Regions from separate parts of the Homo sapiens genome. Here all the other regions are linked to region 1. The links come from fine-mapping of genetic effects on gene expression. A gene starts in region 1. Each other region holds a variant in brackets. All regions are shown on one strand. Distances are between the middles of the regions.

Region 1 (4,336 bases):
GTCAGGTGTGGTGGTGCACACCTGTAATCCCAGCTGCTCCAGAAGCTGAGACGGAGAACTGCTTGAACCTGGGAAGCAGAGGTTGCAGTGAGCCGAGATCGCACTACTGCACTCCAGTTTGGGTGACAGAACAAAGACTCTGCCTCAAAAAAAAAAAAAAAAAACCCCAAAATATATTTCTTTGACATATTTTAAAATGGCCCTACAAAGCTACAAAGCTGTCTTTTGTAACAGAAATTTGCATCTGTAGAGAATCTCCATTAATGCAGCCAGGATTTCCTTTTCTAGGCCTTTCCCAGATCCAGGAAAGATTAATTCTGACACCTAAATTTCCAAAAAGAGACATTTACCATCTATTCTCTCTTTTTTGTTTTTTTTTTTTTTGAGATGGAGTCTCACTCTGTCATCCAGGCTAGAGTGCAGTAGTGCGATCTCAGCTCACTGCAACCTTTGTCTCCTGGGTTCAAGCAATTCTTGTGTCTCAGCCTTCCAAGTAGCTGGGATTACAGGCGCACGCCACCGTGCCTGGCTAATTTTTTTATTTTTCGTAGAGATGGTGTTTCATCATGTTGGCCAGGCTGGTCTTGAACTCCTGACCTCAAGTGATCTGCCTGCCACGGCCTCACAAAGCGTTGAGATTACAGGTGTGAGCCATGGAGCCCAGCCCATCTCTAGTCATGGCACCTAGCCCATCTATTCTCTGAGGCTGCTACTCACACTTCATCTACGTAACAAGGACCTTGAACCACACAACTCCCTTATCTTAGTTCAAGCATTCTTTTCTACTGACTTCAAGTCTTTAGACAAAGCTTAACTCTCTCAAGCAACTGTCAGCTAAAGAATCCCTAAAATCCACCTAAGACTTCTAAGACCACCCTTGGACATATCCACCTTTTTGGGTCTAACCAATGTATACCTTCCATGTATTGATTTATGTCTTTGCCTGTTAACTCCTGTCTCCCTAAAATGTAAAAAAAACAAACTATAACCCAACTGCCTCGGGATCACTTACTAAAGACTTTTTGGGTTTGTGTTTTCTCTCTGGGCGATGGTCAATCATACTGGCTCAGAATAAACCGCTTTAAAATAGTTTACAGAGTTTTATTTATTTGCTAACAGTCTGACACATGATACAAAGACAAGCTTTGAAAATATTATACATAGTATAAGAAGATAGCCGGGCGTGGTGGCTCACACCTGTAATCTCAGCACTTTGAGAGGCTGAGGCAGGTTGATCAAGAGCTGAGGAGTTCAAGACCAGCCTGGCCAAGATGGTGAAACCTCGTCTCTACTAAAAATACAAAAATTAGTCGAACGTGGTGGCAGGCGCCTGTAGTCCCAGCTACTCGGGAGGCTCAGGCAGGAGACTAGCTTGAACCTGGGCAGCAGAGGTTGCAGTGAGCCAAGATCGTGCCACTATACTCCAGCCTGGGCTACAGAGTGAGAGTCATGAGACTCCGTTTAAAAAAAGAACAAAAGTCATGAAAGAAGCTAGTCACAAAAACATTGACATTATACTTAATGAAAGAAGCCAGCTGCACTGTATGATTTCATTTATATCAAACGTGCGAATTGGCAAGGCTATACAGACAGAAAGTATACTAGCAATTGTCTAGGACTTGAGGCGGAGTGGACGTGGTGAATGTAGAATGACTGCTACTGGAGGCAGGATTTTTCTTTGGAGTGATGAAAGTATTCTAAAATGAGATCACAGTAATAGATGCACAATTCTGTCAACAACAACAAAAAAACCCTTAATGTTACCCTTTATTATTTATTTTTGGGTACGTTGTCTTGCTCTGTCTTCCAGGCTGGAGTGCAGTGGCGCGATCTGGGCTCACTGCAGCCTGGAACTCCGGGGCACAAGCGATTCTCCCACCTCAGTCTCCTGAGCAGCTGGAACTACAGGCGAATGCCACTATGCTAGGCTTGATTTTTTTTTACGCTTTAAATGGGCAAATTTTACTTAGTAGGTGAATAGAAATTTCCCAAGAAAGCTGTTTTTTTGTTTGTTGGTTTTTTAGCAGAACCTCCTGAAGTGGCAGGTCACTGAAAAAATTTAAAAAAAAACAACAAAACCGAAGCTTATCCATACTCACTATCCACAAATTCCCAAAATTCCCCAAAGCACAGGCTGCAGACACCGTGTGTTGGGGCGGAAGGGGCGGGGAGCTAGCAGGAAATCCTGACATGCCTAGGAAAGCCTCCATAACTTCCTAATTGAGAGAGAACGATCAGATGCATTGCTGTGACCCCCGCCCCCACCACTCCAACCCCCCCCCATCCCATCCCGCGCTTACCTCTCCTCCAAAGCACTCCAGAAAACTGAGGAGAAAAGCCGCCAAGCCCCCCGACACACTCACCATCCGCAACCGGAACGCGGAAGCAATGGCGCCATCTTTTTTATGGGAAATGTGAGGTTCGAAGGAAGTCACCGGAGCCATCCTTACTGCGGGCAGTGAAGGGCAATGGAAGCCGGTCGCGGCCATGTTGACTGAGGCTTTTGGCCTGTCAATGAGGCTTGCCACATGTGGCTATTTTGGGCAATTTCCTGAGGAGGCTTGTCGATAAATGTGCTTGGTAAACCCTAAGGGAACAGAAAAAATATTCAAAAATTTAAATGTTGGCCGGGAGCGGTGGCTTACGCCTGTAGTCCCAGCACTTTGGGAGGCTGAGACGGATCACTTGAGGCCAGGAGTTTGAGACCAGCCTGGGCAACATAGGGAGACACTGTCTCTACAAAAAAAATTTTTTTTTAATTAGCGAGGCATGGTGGCACATGTCTGTAGGCCCAGGTAGTTGGGGGGCTGAGGTGGGAGAATTGCTTGAGCCTGAGAGGTCAAGGCTGCAGTTGGCCATGTTCTTGCCACTGCAGTCCAGCCTGGGCAACAGAGCTAGACCTTGCCTTTTAAAAAAAAAAATTCGTCTGGGCTCAGTGGCTCACGCCTGTAATCCCAGCACTTTGGTAGGCCGAGGCAGGAGGATCACCTGAGGTCGGGAGTTCGAGACCAGCCTTACCAACAGAGAAACCCTGTCTCTACTAAAAATACAAAATTAGCTGGGTGTGGTGGTGCAGCCTGTAATCGCAGCTACCCGGGAGACTAAGGCAGGAGAATCGCTTGAACCCAGAAGGTGGAGGTTGTGGTGAGCCAAGATCGTGCCATTGCACTCCAGCCTGGGCAACGAGAGCGAAACTCCGTCTCAAAAAAAAAAATAAATAAAATTCAATGTCTTGGAGAGGGTGGGGTGGCATGCCCCTGTAATCCCACTGCTTTGGGAGGCCAAGATGGGAGGATTACTTGAGGCAAGGAGTTCAAGACCCACCTGGGCAACACAGTGGAGACCTTGTCTCTACAAAATGGTTTTGTTTTTTTTTTTTTGAGACGGAGTCTCGCTCTGTTGCCCAGGCTGGAGTGCGGTGGCGCCATCTCGGCTCACTGCAAGCTCCGCCTCCCGGGTTCACGCCATTCTCCTGCCTCAGCCTCCCAAGTAGCTGGGACTACAGGCGCCCGCTACCACGCCCGGCTAATTTTTTGTATTTTTAGTAGAGACGGGGTTTCACCGTGTTAGCCAGGATGGTCTCGATCTCCTGGCCTCGTGATCCGCCTGCCTGGGCCTCCCAAAGTGCTGGGATTACAGGCGTGAGCCACCGTGCCCGGCCTACAAAATGGTTTTAATAAATAAATAAATAAACTTGAATGTCTACATTTTAAAAATATGAAAAGTAGAAATTAAAGATGAGGATGAAAATATTGTAATATTCTGATGCATGCAGATAACTACATAACTGCCACAACTGCAGGACCACAAAAAAGAGACTGTCTAAAGACAAAATTACAAAATTAAGATTTAGCTTAAAGATCTAATTGGCTTTTGTTTACAATTCTAGAATCAGGCAGCATCTCATTCTATAAGATTGAATGTTCCAATGAGCTGAGCAGACAAGGTTAGCTTCATAGGCAGAAAAGGGGCTAAAGAATGCAGAAAGAGATTTGAACAAAAAGCAAATTGATCGTCCTTTTTTTTTTCTTTTTTTTTTTGAGACAGTCTTACTCTGTCGTCCAGGCTGGAGTGTCCTGGTGCGATCTCAACTTCCATCTCCTGAGTTAAAGTGATTCTTGTGTGTCAGCCTCCCTAGTACCTGGATCACAGGCGTGCACCACCATGCCCGGCTAATTTTTGTATTTCTAGTAGAGACAGGGTTTTGCCATGTTGGCCAGACTAGTCTTGAACTCCTGATCTCAAGTGATTTTCCCGCCTGGGCCTCCCAAAGTGCTGTGATTACAGCCATGAGCCACCGCACCCGGCCCTGCAAATTGATCATTTCAAAGTTACT
Region 2 (4,000 bases), 23 kb before region 1:
TACATAAATATTTCAACATGCTCCTTATTTTTAGAGCTGTCAACCAATTCCAATTAATAACAGTTGCTTTTCTACAGATTAGTCAACTAACAGGCAATAAAAAGTAAAAACTGAGTCCACACTGAATTCCCTAAGGGAATAGAGCCATTGCCTTGAAGTATTTCAACATGCTAATACTTCTAAAGTTCTGTTCAAACTGGATATGGTTGCTCACTCCCATTATCCCAGCACTTTGGGAGGCCATGGTGGGAGGATCACTTGAGGCCAAGAGTTCGAGACTTGCCTGGGCAACACAGCAAGACCCTGTCTCTACAAAAAAATTAAAAAAAAAAAAGCCATGTATGGTGATGTGAGCCTGTAATCCCAGCTACTTGGGAGGCTGAGGCAGGAGGATAGCTTCAGCTCAGGAGTTCAAGGCTGCAGTGAGCTATGATGGCACCACAGTATTCCAGCCTAGGCACAGAGCAAAACCCTGTCTCTAAATAAATAAATACATACACAAACAAAGTTCTGTTCAACTGCCTCCATTCACTCATTCTAAGAAATGCTGTTGCTACCCAGGGATGATGAACAAAATCAGTTTTAGGGATGGAAAGTCATGTAGAGGCAGCAGGATGGCAGGGAAAAAAGGGAAGGTTAAAGGAACTAAGATGTTAAGTCTAGAAAGGAAAAGGATAAAGAATTATCTAATTCTTGGTCAGTGATATGGTTTGGATTTGTGTCCCTGCCGAAATGTCATGTGGAATTGTCATCCCCAGTGTTGGAAGTGGGGCCTGGTGGGAGGTGATTGGTTCATGGGGCAGTTCCTCCTAATTGGTTTACAGCACCATCCCCTTGGTGCTGAGTTCCCATGAGATCTGGTTGTTTAAAAGTGTGTAGCACCTTCCCCCTCTCTTTCTTCCTCCTGCTTCAGCCATGTGAAGTGCCAGCTTCCCCTTTGCCTTCCGCCCTGATTGATGCCTAGCAGGTGCTTCTATGCTTCCCGTACAGCCTGCAGAACTGTGAGCCAATTAAACCTCTTTTCTCTATAAATTACCCAGTCTCAGGTATCTCTTTATAGCAGTGTGAGAATGAACTAACACAGTCAGGTACTAAATTAAACAGGAGACTTACTGATCCTGATTACTCTGTGTCCTGAAAATCAGCAGAGAATCCCAAACATATTTCTCCATAGAATTCTTGAAGGCAATGACAGTTACACATCCTACCTGTAGTCATCACTGAATTCATCATCATTAAAGCCTACATTTGCTTAGTACCCACAATGAGTTCTTTCTAAAAATATATATTTGGATTTGTTTTTTGTTGTTGTTTGTTTTTTGTTTTTTGTTTTGAGACAGAGTTTTGCTCTTTCGCTCAGACTGGAGTGAAGTGGCACGATCTCAGCTCACTGCAACCTCCACCTTCCGGGTTCAAGCGATTCTCCTGCTTCAGCCTCCCGAGTAGCTGGTATTACAGGCGCCCGCCACCACACCTGGCTAATTTTTGTATTTTTAGTAGAGACAGGGTTTCACCATGTTGGCCAGGCTGGTCTTGAACTCCTGACCTTAGGTGATCCACCCGCCTCGGCCTCCCAAAGTGTTAGGATTACAGGTGTGAGCTACCACACCCGGCCATTTGGATTTCTTAATATTAACGACAACAACATTGACTGAGCACCCATCGATGGCAGAAAAACCATGCTAAGTATCTTACAGGTTTACCTTAAGCTAAACCTGACTGGGTGGAGCAAGCATTCTGATCACCATTTTGTAGACGACTCTGGAGCTCAGAGGGGTTAAGGAACACGCCCCAAGTCACATAGCCAGCAAGTGGCAGAGCTGAACTTTAAATCCAGGTCTGTGTGATAAACCCAGGGGATTAACCAAAACTAACAAGAAATAAATGAATAAATAAATAAATCCAGGTCTGCGGGCCTCCAGACTCAGATCAGGTAATTAATATGAAAGAGAGGGCTTTACCACTAAAGACGGCCACTACCTACATCAGGGAATTATCATTAGTTTAAATAATAGATGTTTCGGCAATCTAGTCAGGAAACCTTGTAGAAAGGTTGTTACTTAAATCCACAGCATACTTCATACAAGGAATGCTAAAGTCTCTATTTTTATTACTCATCACACATAACAGGCCCACATTGCTATTTTCTGAAGTTTTAAAAGAACAAAACAAAAAAAAATTCCACTCTCTCTTTGTTGAACCAAATATTCCCCTGCTTCTGAATTCATTTTGAGGGAGATTAGAAAGAGACCTGAGATTAACAGCAACAATAACAAAAAGACATCCAGGAAACAGCTCCTTGTCATTGCTGTGCCAGGTAAGCTGTCCTTTGAAGTTCCTCCTGAAAGCTTTGCTTAGGTAAGATGTTTTTCTGCCTAAGACAATGAAGCATTCTCAGAGATCTGCTATTGGAAGAGAGAGAAACAAACT[A/G]TCACACACCCGTATTGCTGCTAGTTGTTTTTAAGTTAGTTTGTTTTAAACTCTGCTTATTACCTGGATCCACATCAGAAGAATAAGGAAAAGAATGGAATTCCAAAGAACTGAAAGCCTCGCTGTTGGCTTCTTGGCTGGGTCCCTGCAGGACGTAATCTCTTATGTCACACGCTGATGGCAGGTCCAAAGCACTGCTCTCCTCTGACAGGCTGCCTGAAGTGGCGTCCCTGGCTGCCATAGTCCTGCCATGGAAAAAAGAAAACAATTCAGTACAAAAGGCACCACATAGCAGGATCCTTCATTGGAGACAGAGCTTGAAGAATTTTATTTGTTTTTTATTTTTATTTTTATTTTTGTAGAGATCAGGTCTCACTAAGTTGCCCAGGCTGGTCTTGAACTCCTGGGCTCAAGCAATCCTCCCACCTCAGCCTCCCAAAGTGATGGGATTATAGGTGTGAGCCACCATACCCACCCAAAAAATTTTAAAGGTCAAACAACAGTGAAATCAGAATGATTTACAGTAGTCCCCCCTTATGTGCGATTTTGCTCTCTGCAGTTTCAGTTGATCTCACCCAACTGTGGTTCAAAAATATTACATGGAAAACTCCAGAAATAAACAATTCATAAATTTCAAATTGTGCACCATTCTGAGTATTGTAATGAAATCTCATGCTGTCCCACTCCATCCCACCTGGGACATTAATTACCCCTGTCCAGCGTATCTGAACTGTACATGCTACCTGCCCCTTAGTCATTCAGTAGCCTTTTCAGTTACCAGATGGACTGTTGTGGTATCACAGTGCTTGTGTTCAAGTAACCCTTATTTTACTTATTAATGGCCCCAAAACACAAGAGTAGTGATGCCAGCAAGTCAGATATGCCAAAGATAGGCCACAAAATACTTTCTTTAGGCAAAAAGGTAAAAGTTGGCCAGGCACACTGGCTCATACCTGTAATCCCAGCACTTTGGGAGGCTGAGGTGGGTGGATCACCTGAGGTCAGGAGTTCAAGACCAGCCTGGCCAACATGGTGAAACCCTGTCTCTACTACAAATACAAAAATTTAGCCAGGCTTGGTGGTGGGTGCCTGTAATCCCAGCTACTTGGGAGTCAGAGGCAAGAGAATCCCTTGAACTTGCGAAGCGGAGGTTGCAGTGAGCGGAGACCGTGCTATTGCACTCCAGCCTGGGCAACAAGAGCAAACCTCCATCTCAAAAAAAAAAAAAAAAAAAAAAAAAAAAGGTAAAAGTTCTCAACTCAATAAGCAAAGAAAAAAATCATATGCCTAGGCTACTAAGATCTACTGTAACAATGAATCTTCTATCCGTGAAATTGTGAAGAAGGAAAAAGAAATTCATGTTAGTCTTGCTGACACACCTCAAACTGCAAAAGTTATAGCCACACGGAGGTTGTAGTGAGCCGAGATTGCACCACTGCACTCCAGCCTGGGCTACAGAGCAAGACTCTGTCTCAAAAAAAAAAAAAAGTTATGGAGTTATGGCCACAGTACATAAGTGCTTAGTTAAGATGAAAAAGGCCTTACATTTGTGCGTGGAAGATATGAACAG
Region 3 (4,000 bases), 32 kb before region 1:
GAGTTGCCAGGTTACTACATGGCCTTGGGTGATTTTCTTCATTATCCTGGGATTCAACTTCCCCATGTGGAAAATGAGAGGATTAGCTGGGCTCTGTGGTTTTCTTTTTTCTTTTTTTTTTTTTTAAGACAGTCTCACTTTGTCGCCCAGGCTGGAGTGCCCGTGGCGCCATCTCGGCTCACTGCAACCTCCGCCTCCCGGGTTCAAGCAATTCTCCTGCCTCAGCCTCCTGAGTAGCTGGAATTACAGGCTCACACCACCAACCTGGCTAATTTTTGTATTTTTAGTAGAGACGGCGTTTTGCCATGTTGACCAGGCTGGTCTCAAACTCCTGGCTTCAAGTGATCCACCAGCCTCGGCCTCCCAAAGTGCTGGGATTACAGGCGTGAGCCACCGCACCCGGCCGCTTAGTGGTTTTCGAACTCCTCCTGGTTCTGGCACCCTTTCTTTGGATGAATGCCTGCCTGGATGCATAAGGTAGAGCATCCAGGGCCCCACAAGCTCATGACCCCACTCAATCTCAAACTTGTAGTTCCTAAAGAGCTGTGAGGAACCACCAGCTCGGAGACTGTAACCTTCTCTAACTCTGTGAGCCTCAGTCATATACACTTATGGTTTATCCTTCACGCCTCAGGCCATACAATTAAAATTCACTGCTGCCTTCTAACAGCAGCATGCAAAGAGCTCAAAATCCGATTCTGGAGCTGAAAATCCAGTCTAGATAGCTGAATCTGCATAACTCAATCTAGGAGGCTGGGCATGGTGGCTCTCGCCTATAATCCCAGCACTTTGGGAGGCCAAGGTAGGTGGATCAACTGAGGTCAGGGGTTTGAGACCAGCCTGGCCAACATGGTGAAACCTTGTCTCTACTAAAAATACAAAAATTAGCCGGGTGTGGTGGCGGGCTCCTGTAGTGCCAGCTACTCGGGAGGCTGAGGCAGGAGAATCCTTGAAACTGGGAGGCGGAGGTCGCAGTGAGCCGAGACCTTGCCACTGCACTCCAGCCTGGGTGATGGAGTGAGACTCTGTCTCAAAACAACAACAACAACAAAAACCCCAAATCTAGGAAGAGGCAACAAAAGCAGAGAAGCACTGCCACACAGAATACCCAAACCTTCCAAATAAAGCCCATCTACTTGGTATCTGATAAAATGTACCCAATTGTGTCCTCAGTTATTTCTCAGAGAATTGGTTCAATAACCATTGTTCCCTTCTTTCCTTTCCTCTCCATACTCTCTGTATCTCAGGTTTGGTCTAGTGACTGGGTATTAGCCACTAGGTTGGATATCACTTAATGCAACTATAAAATGTCTTTAGCATTTTATGTATATATCTAAAATATACCCTGACTCCTATTTTAAAACTACAACAACACATCAAGAATTTGACAACTAGTATATAAATTTTATTTTGAGTTTTTTTATCTAAGAGCTTATAATTCATTCCTTTTGGAAATAAAATTTTATAGAATTCCAAAGAAATATGAATTATAGAGAGGAAGACAACAAACTTTTTTTTACTCTTAAATACTAAATTCCTTGGATGAAATGCCTAAATACACAAGTTACAAAATGGGCTTTGAAGAGTGGGATGTTGACAGATTCCCAGAATAAGACTAAAGGTGCATTAAATCACTATTTACTTTAAACTTATAACTGCCTGCCAGCTATGGCCTTTAATCATCAAAGACTTATTGTGTTTAACATTCAATTTGCTGTCTACATGCAACCAATTTCCCCGACACTGCTCTTAGGCAGAAGTTCAAGTTTGAGGAAAGGGCTGATATTTCCTACATCTGTATTGTTAATGTCTAACAACGACTTCAGAGAAAACTCCTTGTCCTATATTAGAAAGTACCTTGGATGCTCTCCAGGACAAAGGTTCCAGAGGGTGCAGGTGAGATACGCCACATGAGCTACCCAGAGTTTATCAAGCTC[T/C]AGCAGTACATGTGGGACTGGGCCTTCGGGTGACCTTTGTGATCTTGCTTTTGAGAGGTTTAACCAAGATCATCTGTTTCTTAACTCCGCTCTTCCATTCTGTATACTCTGTGCTTCCCTTGAGCCAAGCAGCAAACGAGAAAGAAAACAAGTATCTAACAGACAGGGTGTTCAAGTCCAGCAGCAAGTCTGTACCTGGGACTAATTAATGGATTCAATTCAGCCATCTCTGGAGTGGACTGGAGTTGACCAGGGAGGAGGGGGCACATTCCAGAGAGGGGAACAATGCAGCTAAGACATTAACAGTTGGCTCAGCCTAAAAGCAAGCCCGACAGGACTGGCAGGCCTGTGTTAATGTGCAGTTGGACAGCAGCAGGGGCCTCTATTCAGCTCGTGTGCACCTGTACAGTCGTGCCGGTTGTTGAAATATTGCAATACTGCTGTATTGGTTATTAAATATTTTGAACAAATATTCCAGGCAGCAGATTACACAGAGTCCCGAAAACAAGGCAGAGGAGCTTTTTGATTGGAGCTGGAAGGAAAGAAGTAGTGTAAGATTGGCCGGGTGTGGTAGCTCACACCTGTAATCCGAACACTTCGGGAGGCCAAGGTGGACGGATGACTTGAGGTCAGGAGTTCAAGACCAGCCTGGCCAACATGGTGAAACCCTGTCTCTACTAAAAATACAAAAAAATAGCTGGGCAGGGTGGTGGGTGCCTGTAATCCCAGCTACTCAGGAGGCTGAGGCAGGAGAATCGCTTGAACCCAGGAGGCGGAGGTTGCAGGGAGCCGAGATTGCACCATTGCACTCCAGCCTGGACAACAGAGCGAGACTCAGTCTAAAGACAAAAGTAGTGTAATATGACATCTCAAAGGGACCTAAACAGAAGAATGTTATGGAAAAGGTGTTCCAGGAACACTCTATATTTTTCTTTCTTTAGAAAGAGGGTCTCACTCTGTCCCGCAGGCTAGAGTGCAGTGGTACAATCATAGCTCACTGTAGCCTCGAACTCCTGGGCTCAAGCAATCCTCCCACCTTGACCTCCCAAAGTGCTGGGATTATAGGCATGAGCCTCTGCACTCGCTCTCAGGAAGCCCTGTTTGGCAGTAGCAGGTCTTCTGCCATATCTCACTAGGAAGGGCTGAGGGGAGGATTTTATAATCCTGCACCTGCTTTAAGTGAAAAGTTGTTTATTTTACCATCATTTCATGAGGAGTGGCTGGGTGGGAACTTCAGGCCAGATGGACTGTGTCTTTATTAGACATATATAGCCTAGTTTTACCCATCTTTACATACTCATACTGGAATGACTAAGGCTTTTGAGGTTTTTCTAACACTCTCAGATTCTTATCAGCCCAGTAGTTTTCTGGAAAGTGCTCTTAAGTCTCATGTCCTTGCTACTAATTTGCTCCTCCAGAGTATGAACAGTGATGCGGCAGTTGGGCACATAGCAAAAGGACAGAGAAGCGTCCATCCAGTTTGGCTCCTAGGGAAGATCATTGGCATCTGAGTAAGGGCAGGCTTAGTCCAGAGGGGAATGGAGGTAGAGGCCATGTGCCTGGGAATGAGGAGCAATCCTGAGATGAAGAAGTGAGGAGGAAGGCAGGCAGCCCCTTCAAAAAGCCTGGCTGGGAAAAGCAGGGCAGGGATAGGCCCATGGTCAGGGGCAGCTGCAAGGTGAAATGGGGAATCCTTTACACAAGTTAAGCCTAAGCCTGGGCCCATGTTCTTGTAACTGGGTTTTGCAGCGGTCCTTGCTATATCCTAAATCTAAGGTCACCCTTCCTTGGCCTACTACTCTTCCAGGGGTTAGAACTGTGACACTGACTCCAACCTGGAAGCTGGGACCTTGCTACTCACTGAGAAGGCACCTGCACACTGCCTGCCACCTGCCTGGATTTCTGGGTATTCTCTCCAGCGTGCCTGTTGCTGGGCTGTGCTGTGCCACCAGAAGACTACGCCACGCCTCCACTGTGAACCCCAACCCCTTGCCAACTCTGTGTCTGGATTTTGACTGAAGAATTTGATAACAGATGATATGACTGAACTCTTACAGTCAAGC

What was found.
Region 2: its variant is fine-mapped to the expression of SHLD1 in whole blood (TOPMed, PIP above 0.99).
Region 3: its variant is fine-mapped to the expression of SHLD1 in whole blood (INTERVAL, PIP 0.97).

The regions. Positions count from the first base shown.
Region 1 is chr20:5,748,444-5,752,779 of GRCh38, reverse strand. It overlaps SHLD1 (shieldin complex subunit 1), which reads right to left and starts at 2,379. Exons shown (of 3, transcript NM_152504.4): 1 at 2,301-2,379. RefSeq lists an enhancer at 2,504-2,553.
Region 2 is chr20:5,771,537-5,775,536 of GRCh38, reverse strand. It overlaps SHLD1 (shieldin complex subunit 1), which reads right to left. Exons shown (of 3, transcript NM_152504.4): 2 at 2,494-2,675. The coding sequence starts at 2,671. Among named protein-coding and RNA genes, the nearest start is that of SHLD1, 23 kb to the right of the region's middle. The variant A/G (reference allele first, on the strand shown) is at 2,431.
Region 3 is chr20:5,780,275-5,784,274 of GRCh38, reverse strand. The region is part of intron 2 of SHLD1 (shieldin complex subunit 1); the gene reads right to left. Among named protein-coding and RNA genes, the nearest start is that of SHLD1, 32 kb to the right of the region's middle. The variant T/C (reference allele first, on the strand shown) is at 1,938.